Linked DNA regions of Homo sapiens. The protein of the gene in region 1 interacts with the protein of each later gene in a pairwise test. Each region holds a gene or a part of one and is shown in the gene's direction. Other genes may lie near its edges. The genes, in order: COL3A1, AP2B1 and MYOC.

Region 1 (3,500 bases):
TAACGGTCTCAGTGGAGAACGTGGTCCCCCTGGACCCCAGGGTCTTCCTGGTCTGGCTGGTACAGCTGGTGAACCTGGAAGAGATGTGAGTAGCAGTTTTTATTCAACCAGCCAGGTAGAATTTGATAATTTATTTCAGCAAAGGTGAAATTGAGCTTTAATGTCTAAGAGTGTAAATATGGCCACATAGCAAAGTTCTTCTATCTCTAATAACAGAAATTCTTTCATTACAATTTAGGATAGACTTAAAAGCTCTTGTTCATTAGTATTTACCCAATGAATAATCATTTGTGGAGAAAATATTATCTCTAACTAAATTAGGAAAAAAGTTAGTGGGGAGAACCACAATTGACATGTTTTCTGAGTGAAAATATTCTACGGTTATCTATGGTTAGTCTTTTATTATTTTTAAAGAATTTAAAATTAATATTATTTATAATTAACAAATCATAATTGTATACATTTATAAGGTACAATGTGATGTTTTAATATATGTATACAATGTGGAATGATTAAAGCAAACTAATTAAACTGTAGATTTCCACTAACAGTTTAGATCACTATTTCTTAAACTTTTATTTATTAGAGGTCTGTAAAGACTCTTTTTGGATATCATTTTTCTAATCACCTCTCCTCCATGAATACACTAACTATCTGTCTGGACATTGTGACCCTTTGAAGGGCCACACTGCTTTGTAATATCTAAGATTTCTTACCCCCAAGAACCAATTTTAACCCCCTTGAGAATTATATTGCCCTGCTGAGAATGCATGGATGAAATGGCATTTGGAAGGTTTCAAGAAATTTTATTTCCTTTCTCATTTTTTAATCAGGGAAACCCTGGATCAGATGGTCTTCCAGGCCGAGATGGATCTCCTGGTGGCAAGGTATAATAAACACATGTGCAATTGATTTGTGTTATCAAAATAAGTGATCATCATGTTTATTTTGTACCTATGAATTTGTTCACAGGGTGATCGTGGTGAAAATGGCTCTCCTGGTGCCCCTGGCGCTCCTGGTCATCCAGGCCCACCTGGTCCTGTCGGTCCAGCTGGAAAGAGTGGTGACAGAGGAGAAAGTGTGAGTTCCCAAAAGCAGCATCTGTCTTGTTTGTCTATTTCCTTCAATAAAGACATTTGTAGGTAGAAGGTAGAATGTCAGATCTGCCAACCAAAATATCCACTGTCATTTGTTTTACAGTTTTAATGCTAGTTGTTCCTTAGACAAATGTGTGAATAAGTCAATACCAGAAGTACTTGGCAGTAGTCAATAAAGAATTCATTACTGAAACCCGAAATCATATTAATCAGACCAACTATCTATATGCTGGGTAAATGCAAGGCCAAGTTAACAGGGCTCTTGCCCAACTTTTCTGTCTAGATCCCCTGAGAAAGCTATAAACAGGGCTTTAGCACTTTGAAGGCAAAAACAATATTAACTTCCAATAATTGCATGCATACTATAATTCTATTATAATGAAATTATTTACTTTTGAAAACGAAATTGTGTCAACACATAAAACTAGTTCCGTGTATGTCTTCTCAATTGAATGTTTTCATCTTAGGGCCCTGCTGGCCCTGCTGGTGCTCCCGGTCCTGCTGGTTCCCGAGGTGCTCCTGTAAGTTTTGTCATTTTTTGGTTTTATTTTGTTTTGTTCTTTTTTTAACTCATTCTACAGTGTAGGAAATATTTTATTTTCCAGCGTGTTCAGGAAAAAAGAATGAATATATATATATATATATATATATATATATATATATATATATATTTGTTCTATCTATAGATAGATGATAGATAGATAGATAGATAGATAGATAGATAGATAGATAGATAGATAGAACAAATATAAACTTTCCTTTAATGACAATGATATGGAAAGCAGTTCAGGATCTAAAAGTTCTTTGGAGCCAAGGATAGAAACATCAGTTGTTAGGGATCCATGCAATGATCAGTCCAAAATGAAAACAACCACAGAAACAAATCTCATTTCCTATCTGAAGTGTCTGTTGATGGGGGATTTTTTAGCTGATAGAAAGCCATAAAATAGATTTAATTATTATAAATTCTATTTTATTTTTCCAATATGTATGTGTGTATATGACTTCAATTCAAAATATGTTTCTAAAGGGTCCTCAAGGCCCACGTGGTGACAAAGGTGAAACAGGTGAACGTGGAGCTGCTGGCATCAAAGGACATCGAGGATTCCCTGGTAATCCAGGTGCCCCAGGTTCTCCAGTAAGTGCATTCATTTTGTTGGAAAATCCCTTCAATGTATACAAATTTTAGAGATTAAGAGAAGAAAGCTTTCCATCTCTAAAAATATGTACTAGAAGAGATGAGAAATGGATTTGAAGGCTAATTTGAAACAACAATCAGCATGACACAATGGGAAGATTAAAGAAAGAAAAAAAATTTCATCATGATCCCCATGTTTCTTGATCTGATCTTGAATGTACAGTTTCCCAGTGCTTTTTAAGGCCTTCACTCCTATGTACACTTCCTTTCTTTCCAGGGCCCTGCTGGTCAGCAGGGTGCAATCGGCAGTCCAGGACCTGCAGGCCCCAGAGTAAGTAGCACAGAAAGATATTACAGGTCCACATGTTTCAGATGTCTGCATTTCAGAAAGATATTCTGGCATTGTGATGTCATGATACTTTCTTAGGGACCTGTTGGACCCAGTGGACCTCCTGGCAAAGATGGAACCAGTGGACATCCAGGTCCCATTGGACCACCAGGGCCTCGAGGTAACAGAGGTGAAAGAGGATCTGAGGTAAGACATCACTTATACGTATGTGTATTTAATTTGCTACAATCTTCCAATTTTCAGAAACACAGCGCATTATGTTTAAATTGAAATAGAGAGACGCAATGCATCCACTCAATTTAGAAACTGAACAATGACTTTAAGACATTCTCCATCACATTAAAAATGTTTCTACCACACTATAACAGGAGAAAAATACCTTTTTAAAAATTTGATCAGGTATCCATCGTATCAGAATAATGACATCTGCCCAATTAACCAAATAAACCCTGTCCACATTGCTATCCCACTAGAGATCTCAGAATTACAACATTCATAATTATCTGCGTTTATGTAGTGCATTTTACTTCTCAAACAGCTTCCATGGTTACTATTTTGTTAATGATACTATCATTCCTAATACTTTCTATTCCATGCCTTTGGGTAAATGAAATAAAAACAATTATCCCAACAAATTACACTCCCCTCTGTCATGTCAATATTGGAATTGTAGCTCACAGGTGTTTGCTTACATCAGTCATCCAGAAGGAAGAATGATAGAGAAAACTTGTGCTCTGACACTACTGATTCTTACATAGTGGAACAATATCTTTCTTGATAATGAATTGTAGTTATTATAAATCGGTGATCACGTGACCCTAAAGGCACCCAAATAAATCTTTAGTAAAATAATTCTGATGACACAATGAATGAATTATTTTTAAGGCATTTTCTTGGACTAGCAATGTATTCTTAG
Region 2 (3,734 bases), on another chromosome or scaffold:
TCAAGCCCAGACCAGCTCCTGTGCTCCCCTTTGTTTTCTTGGCTGCAGGCCACAGAAATCTAGCTCTCTTTTCTATTTGATGTTTAGGAACTCACTGTGGAGTAGGGCACGGTCTTTACAGCTCCTCTTTTTTTTTTTTTTTTTTTTCCTGTGCCGGAATACAAGCCCAAAAGCTTTTCCTGTTTTTAGGGTAGATCCTAATGGCTGTGGGATGGTACGAACTCCCTAAACCTCTGCCTGGCACTAGAGTGAATCCTGCTGAGCTGTTTCTCATTTTGTATTTAAAACAGTTAAATGACTTCTTCACCTAAACTCTTAAATAGGGCAGCTAAGATTTGTACTTAGGAAAGGAATAGCATGGAAGATTGGAGCTCATGTAGAATGTATCTGGAAGCTTAAATTAATGAGGTAATTCTTTTGCAGCTTACATAAACTGGACTGTTTACTTTTAGCCACCATGTATACCTACAGTTGTTGGTGATTGTTTTCTGCAGGACTGTGAAGATCCTAATCCTTTGATTCGAGCCTTGGCAGTCAGAACCATGGGGTGCATCCGGGTAGACAAAATTACAGAATATCTCTGTGAGCCGCTCCGCAAGTGCTTGAAGGATGAGGATCCCTATGTTCGGAAAACAGCAGCAGTCTGCGTGGCAAAACTCCATGATATCAATGCCCAAATGGTGGAAGATCAGGGATTTCTGGATTCTCTACGGGATCTCATAGCAGATTCAAATCCAATGGTAATAAGCTTCTGCTTTTACAAAGAGAGCAGTATTTAAAATGAGTCCCTTGTTAAAGCGTGTTTAATATGAACCTTGTCTTTGGAATACTGGGTTATGGGGTAGCTATGGGAAACATGACTTTGTGTGTCTCACAGATTGTATATTTCATATCCTAGGTGTTTTTGAGGTGAGAACCAAGTACTAAAATGCAGGGATCTTAAAGCAAATCTTTGTATTGTACTTATGCTCATATTTGCCCATATTGCCCATGATGAAAACTTTCATCATTTTCTTCAGGAGGTTTGGCCGTAAATTTATATATATTTAAGATTATTTTCTTCAGATCAATATTTGTGGTATTTTCTGGTGGTGTGGGACTAGAAACTGAATGAAAATGATCTTTATTACCTAATTATTATCATGCATTTCTCTATAGGGGAATTTCTAGGGCAAGATTATTTTTAGCCAACTTGGTTATGTTGTAAATGTTTAGCAGCCAGAACATAGCTTAACACCTTAAAGTTTTGGGACCTTTTCCTTATTGACATTTTAAACTTTGCTTATATAATGAAGAAGGTCAAGTCCCAAGTGATATGTTTGACTCCAGTAATAACTAAAGCTCATTTGAATTGGGTACTAATTGAATATATTGGATGGGTCATTAAATATTGTTGCCAGGAAGATGGAGGAAAATAGCCACTTTCTTTAAAGTGCTACCTTTTTGGTCTAATGCAATGTTTACTGAAAGGTGCATAACACTAAGAGTTAATCAGTGGATAACCTTTGAATATTCCCTTTTAAAAATTATTTATCTATCTATTTATTTATTTTTTACAGATAGGATCTTGCTCTGTGGCCAAGCTGGAGTGCAGTGGTGCAGTCATAGCTCACTGTAACTTTGAACTCCTGGGTTCAAGCACTCCTACCTCAGCCTCCTGAGCATCTAGGACTGCAGGCACATGCCACCACATCCCGCTAATTTTTTTTTTTTTTTTGAGACAGAGTCTTGCCTTGTCGCCCAGGCTGGAGTGCAGTGGCGTGATCTCAGCTCACTGCAAGCTCCGCCTTCCAGGTTCATGCCATTGTCCTGCCTCAGCCTTTTGAGTAGCTGGGACTACAGGCGCCTGCCACCACGCCTGGCTAATTTTTTGTATTTTTTAGTAGAGACGGGGCTTCACCGTGTTAGCCAGGATGGTCTTGATCTCCTGACCTCGTGATCCACCTGACATGGCCTCCCAAAGTGTTGGGATTACATGTGTGAGCCACCGCACCCAGCCTTATTTTTTATGGAGATGGGGTCTTGCTATGTTGCCCAGGTTGGTCATGAATTCCTGGCCTCAAGCAATCCTCCCACCTTGGCCTTCCTCAGTGAATTACTGTGCTTGGCCTGAATATTTTCTTAGTGAACTTTAAATGGAGAATTAGAATTTGGCTGGACATAGATGCTGTCTCTCATTTGTAAATTACCTGTTCACTTCTCTGCTTTGACATTTTGTTTGGTTCATTTTATTTTACAGGTAGCCTTGGCTTCTGTTTATTATCCTTCAAGATTAGTATTAAATCCACAGGATGAAGCAAGTCATAATTTTTTAAGGTTTTTATGGTAGTAACTACCATTAGAAATCTTTCAACCTAGGCATAAGGGTGGGCGTCGGTGTGGGTGTGGAAGTGCAGATGCTTTAACCATGACTTCTGACAGAGCATCACCACCAGTACTAGAAGATTCAACCCTGCCTTTTATTTCCCCTAAGTAACACCATATGGTACCTTTTATTTATTTTTTATTTTTTTTTGAGATGGAGTGTCACTCTGTCGCCCAGTCTGGAGTGCAGTGGCATGATCTCGGCTCACTGGAACCTCTACCTTCTGGGTTCAAGCGATTCTCCTCCTGCCTCAGCCTCCTTAGTAACTGGGATTACAGGTGCCCACTACCATGCCCGGCTAATTTTTGTATTTTTAGTAGAGACGACGTTGCACCATGTTGGCCAGGCTGGTCTCAAACTCTTGACTCAGGTGATGCACCTGCCTTGACCTCCCAAAGTGCTGGGATTACAGGCATGAGCCATCACACCCAGCCCCCTTTTTAAAAATTACATAAAGAAATTAGTTGGCTAGGCATGTTGGCTCATATGCCTATAATCCTAGCACTTTGGGAGGCTGAGGCAGAAGGATCACTTGAAGCCAAGAGTTTGAGACCAGCCTGGGCAACAAACTGAGACCCTGTCTCTACAAAAATTTTTTTAAAAAATTCGGTGGGGCCGGGTGCAGTGGCTCATGCCTGTAATCCCAGCACTTTGGGAGGCCGAGGTGGGTGGATCACGAAGTCAGGAAATCAGGACCATCCTGGCTAACGCGGTGAATCCCCGTCTCTACTAAAAATACAAAAAATTAGCCGGGCGTGGTGGCAGGCGCCTATCGTCCCAGCTACTCAGGAGGCCGAGGCAGGAGAATGGTGTGAACCCAGGAGGCGGAGCTTGCAGTGAGCCGAGGTCGTGCCACTGCATTCCAGCCTGGGTGACGGAGCGAGACTCTTGTCTCAAAAAAAAAAAAAAAAATTTTGTTGGACGTGGTGGTGCATGCCTGTAATTCCAGGTACTTGGGAGGCCGAGGTGGGAGAATCCCTTGAGCCCAGGAGTTTAAGGCTGTAGTGAGCTATGATTGCACCACTGCATTATAGCCTGAGTGACAAAGACAGACCCTTCCTCAAAAATATAGAAAAATAAATATTGTCTAAAGTTAGTAGTATCTACTTTACAGAATGTTTAGCTGGCACCAACTTGTGTTTTTGGCATTGCTTTTGATTCACTGTTATTCTGAGCAACTATCTATAATTCTCTACCTGAGGACAGATGAGATGAAAAGTGTTTGTGCTGCAACCGTCAACCAGGTGGGCAGAATATCATGTACCCCGTGGAAACTTATTAAATATTCAGTGGTGCTAAGAATATGGAATGGCTCAAAGGGAAAATGAGTTCTAACTTACAGGCGACTCCAGTTTGAGGCAGCATCTCT
Region 3 (3,734 bases), on another chromosome or scaffold:
GCCTGCCATGTCCCGGGGGGTACTCCCAATTGCCCCTGGAGTTTGGAATGCACATTGAGGATGTCCTCAGTTACATATACATTTTGGCTTATGAGTCTTTCTTTTTTTAATTTTTTTTTTTTTTAAGACAGGGTCTCACTCTGTCACCCAGACTGGAGTGCAGTGGCATGATCATGGCTCACTGCAGCCTTGCCCTCTTGGACTCAAGAGTCATCTTCCTGCCTCAGCCTCCCGAGTAGCTGAGACCACAGACTGCACCACCACACCCAGCTAACTCTTTAATTTTTTGTAAAGATGGGGTCTCGCTATGTTGCCCAGCCTGGTCCCAAACTCTTGGCCTCATGCAATCCTGCCACCTCGGCCTCCCAAAGTGCTGGGTTTACAGGCATGAGCCACTGCGCCTGGCCAGCTTATGGGTTTTAACTACTTACATGGTGCACTCTAGACTGAGGGATATCCCAGGGATGGAGGACCCACCCACCTCCAGGGCATTAACACTTTTAGGGAGGCTAACAACTGCAGCCACACAGAGGCAGGGGTGGAGAGGAGAGAAGGGTAGCTGGGATCAGGGGCAGGCAGCTGCAGCAGCTACTGAGCTGGCTCACTGTGGGCAGCATGGCTGTCTGGCCCAGCCTGCACCTGAGAGCTAGCTGAATGTTTTCTTCACCTCCTTCCAGGGAGAAATTTTTTCCAGTACTATAATTTGTTGAAGCTGAACCCCAGCAACTCAAACAAGGTACCCTGACTCTGGAGATGTGAAAATGTAAAATAATGTGTGGCTTTGATGAAATGTGGTAGAACCAGAGGATTAAGACTTCTGTGGTGATCCTCTCTGCCTGAAATCTAAATTTAGGAGAGCTGAGCAAACAAATGATCAAAGGCAGAACATGTCTTCCCGACCCTCTCGGCTGTGTAGGCGCTCCGGCCTCAGGGGATGCACTGACTTTCCTCCCACTGTCCTGAACACCTGAGAATCCTGAGCGGGGAACAAGTTGCTCAAAGGGCAGAGAAGTGACTCAGAGGTTCAGCAAGAGAAAAGCCCAGTGTATTAAGCATGTCTTTTTATTCTGATGCTTTGCTGTCTGGGCCTTGCAAACGTGAGAGGGACTGCCCCTCCCAGGGGTAGCCAGTTCCTACGGTTAGCAAAGGACTCACCTGGGAGGACAGCTTTCATATGCAAACCAACCAATCCAGAGCCCACACCCTGTGACCACCTCCATCTGGCTCAAACTCAAGGCCACTGTCCCCCTGACCTAATCACCCAGGGCCTGGTACCAGACAATTAGAGATAACTCCTGTGACCCCAGATCCTGCTGAAATTATTCAAACTCCCCAATCCTAAACCTGCTTACCCTGCCTCCCCTTTCTTTCCTTCCCATGGAAAGAATAAAGGCGCTTTCCCACATTTTCCCCTGGTGCCCTCTTCTGGAGCAACCCTGGTGCTTCCCCAGGTGGCCTCCTGGGCTTAGTGTGCCCCCTTCCTCTTGGGCTCTGTGAGTACAACAACTTGTAAAGATAATTTTTTTTTAGAGCAGTTTTATGTTCACAGCCAAATTGAGAGAAAAGTACAAACAGTTCCCAGATACTACTGGCCCCCACACATGCACAGCCTCCCCGATTATCATCATCTCCCGCCACAGCAGTTGTTACAACTGATGAACCTGCATCAGCACGCACAACACCCAAGGTCCACGGTTTAAATTAGGGTTCATTTTTGGTGTTGCGCCTTCTATGGGTTTAGACAAATGCATAGTGACATGTGTCCACCATTATAGTATCATACACAGTATTCATTGCCCTAAAAATCGTCTGTGCCTCACCTAGTCATCCCTTCCTCACCCAACAACTGCTGATCTTTTTACTGTCTCCATAATTTTGCTTTAACTTGCTTTTCAGTGACAATTGCCTCCTGGGATGTTGGCCTTGCCACACCTGAATAATCATCAAACCTGCATTTTATTTGTTTTTATGTGTATGTGATGGGTTTTTTGGGAGGTTGGAGGGGAGGACAGGGTCTCACTCTACGCCAGGGCTGGAGTGCAGAGGTACGATCACTGCTCACCACAGCCTTGACCTCCCGGTCTCAAGTGATCCTCCCACCTCAGCCTCCCAAGTAGCTGGGACTGCAGGTACACATCACCACCCAGGCTAACTTTTTGTAGTTTTTGTAGAGATGGGATTTCACCATGTTGCCCAGGTTTGTCTTGAACTCCTGGGCTCCAGTGATCTGTCTACCTTGGCTTCCCAAAGTGCTGGGATTACAGGTATGAGCCACTGGGCCTGGCCAAACTGCATTTTAAAATAGCCAAGCCTGTTCCTTGTGACTATTGCCTCATCCTTGTATTCAAGACTGCTGTAAGATCATAATCCTAAGCAAGAGTAGAGACATGTAGCACACCATGATCACTTACTGTCTAACCAATGCTGCCCACCCGCTTCCCTTCTGTATGGCTCACCACCCCCACCCCAAACTCCTATAGGAACTCTGCACACACTCCCTCTCCATTATGCAAAACTGGTCTCAGAAAGGAATCAGACAGAATATTTCTACTGAAAGTATAAAGCTTAATATGTTACTTCTTACAAGAATATTTGCATATAACAAGGGAAAAAACCTTAAGTCATGCAGTAAACTTTTATCTTTTTTTTTTTTTTAACAGGAGTCTCCCTATGTTGCCCAAGCTGGTCTTGAACACCTGGGCTCAAGTACTCCTCCTGTCTTGGCCTCCCAAAGTGCTGGGATTACAGACATGAGCCACACTTCTTTTTTTTTTTTTTTTTTTTTTTTTTTCTTGAGACAGAGTCTTGCTCTGTTGCCCAGACTGGAGTACAGTTGCACAATCCCGGCTCCCTGCAACCTTTGCCTCCTGGGTTCAAGTGATCCTCAACCTCCTGAGTATCTGGAACTACAGGCATGTGCCACCACACCCTGCTAATTCTTGTATTTCTAGTAAAGATGGAATTTCACCACGCTGGCCAGGCTAGTCTTGAACTCCTGGCCTTAAGTGATCCGCCTGCCTCGGCCTCCCAAAGTGCTGGGATTTCAGTGTGAGCCACTGTGCCCGGTCTCTTTTTTTTTTTTTTTGAGACCTTGAGACCGGGCCTTGCTCTGTTACCCAAGCTGGAGTGCAGTGGCAGGATCATAGCTCACTGCAGCCTTGAACTTCTGGGCTCAAGCAATCCTCCCACATCAGCCTCCCAAGTACCTAGGACTGCAGATGCTTACCACCATGCCCAGCTAATTTTTCATGAATTTTTAATTATTGAAATTCAGACATCTAAGAAGATGCTGAGGACTGTCTCCATATTCCTGAAATTACGACTCACCTATTCACAAACCAGCCCTTCTAGTGGAATTAAAATATTATTTGATTTTGAATACCCTACTCTAAGGTAGGCACATTGCCCTGCAATTTATTATTTATGAGGTTTTTAATTATGGAATTGTTCAAATATTCACAAAAGTAGAGAGACTACAATGAACTCCAATGTAGCCATCACTCAGGCCCAACTGTTATCAGCACAGTCCAATCATGTTTTATCTTCCCTTCTCTGACCCCCAACCCATCCCCAGTCCTTATCTAAAATCAAATCTCAAACACCATATCTTTGGGAGCCTATTTATTTAGTTAGTTAGTTTTCAGACAGAGTTTCTTTCTTGTTGCCCAAGCTGGAGTACAATAGTGTAGTCTCGGCTCACAGCAATCTCCCCCTCCTTGGTTCAAGCAATTCTC

Evidence for each region.
Region 2: the proteins of COL3A1 (region 1) and AP2B1 interact in binary tests that used the Homo sapiens proteins (3 or more experiments, as listed by UniProt).
Region 3: the proteins of COL3A1 (region 1) and MYOC interact in a two-hybrid assay, tested with the Homo sapiens proteins (one study listed by BioGRID).

The regions. Positions count from the first base shown.
Region 1 is NC_000002.12:189,005,373-189,008,872, forward strand, and holds part of COL3A1 (collagen alpha-1(III) chain preproprotein), read left to right. Parts: coding exon 1-85; intron 86-833; coding exon 834-887; intron 888-972; coding exon 973-1,080; intron 1,081-1,564; coding exon 1,565-1,618; intron 1,619-2,127; coding exon 2,128-2,235; intron 2,236-2,512; coding exon 2,513-2,566; intron 2,567-2,662; coding exon 2,663-2,770; intron 2,771-3,500. UniProt on the Homo sapiens protein: Collagen type III occurs in most soft connective tissues along with type I collagen. Involved in regulation of cortical development.
Region 2 is NC_000017.11:35,607,648-35,611,381, forward strand, and holds part of AP2B1 (AP-2 complex subunit beta), read left to right. Parts: intron 1-494; coding exon 495-740; intron 741-3,734. UniProt on the Homo sapiens protein: Component of the adaptor protein complex 2 (AP-2). Adaptor protein complexes function in protein transport via transport vesicles in different membrane traffic pathways.
Region 3 is NC_000001.11:171,639,004-171,642,737, reverse strand, and holds part of MYOC (myocilin precursor), read left to right. Parts: intron 1-3,734. UniProt on the Homo sapiens protein: Secreted glycoprotein regulating the activation of different signaling pathways in adjacent cells to control different processes including cell adhesion, cell-matrix adhesion, cytoskeleton organization and cell migration.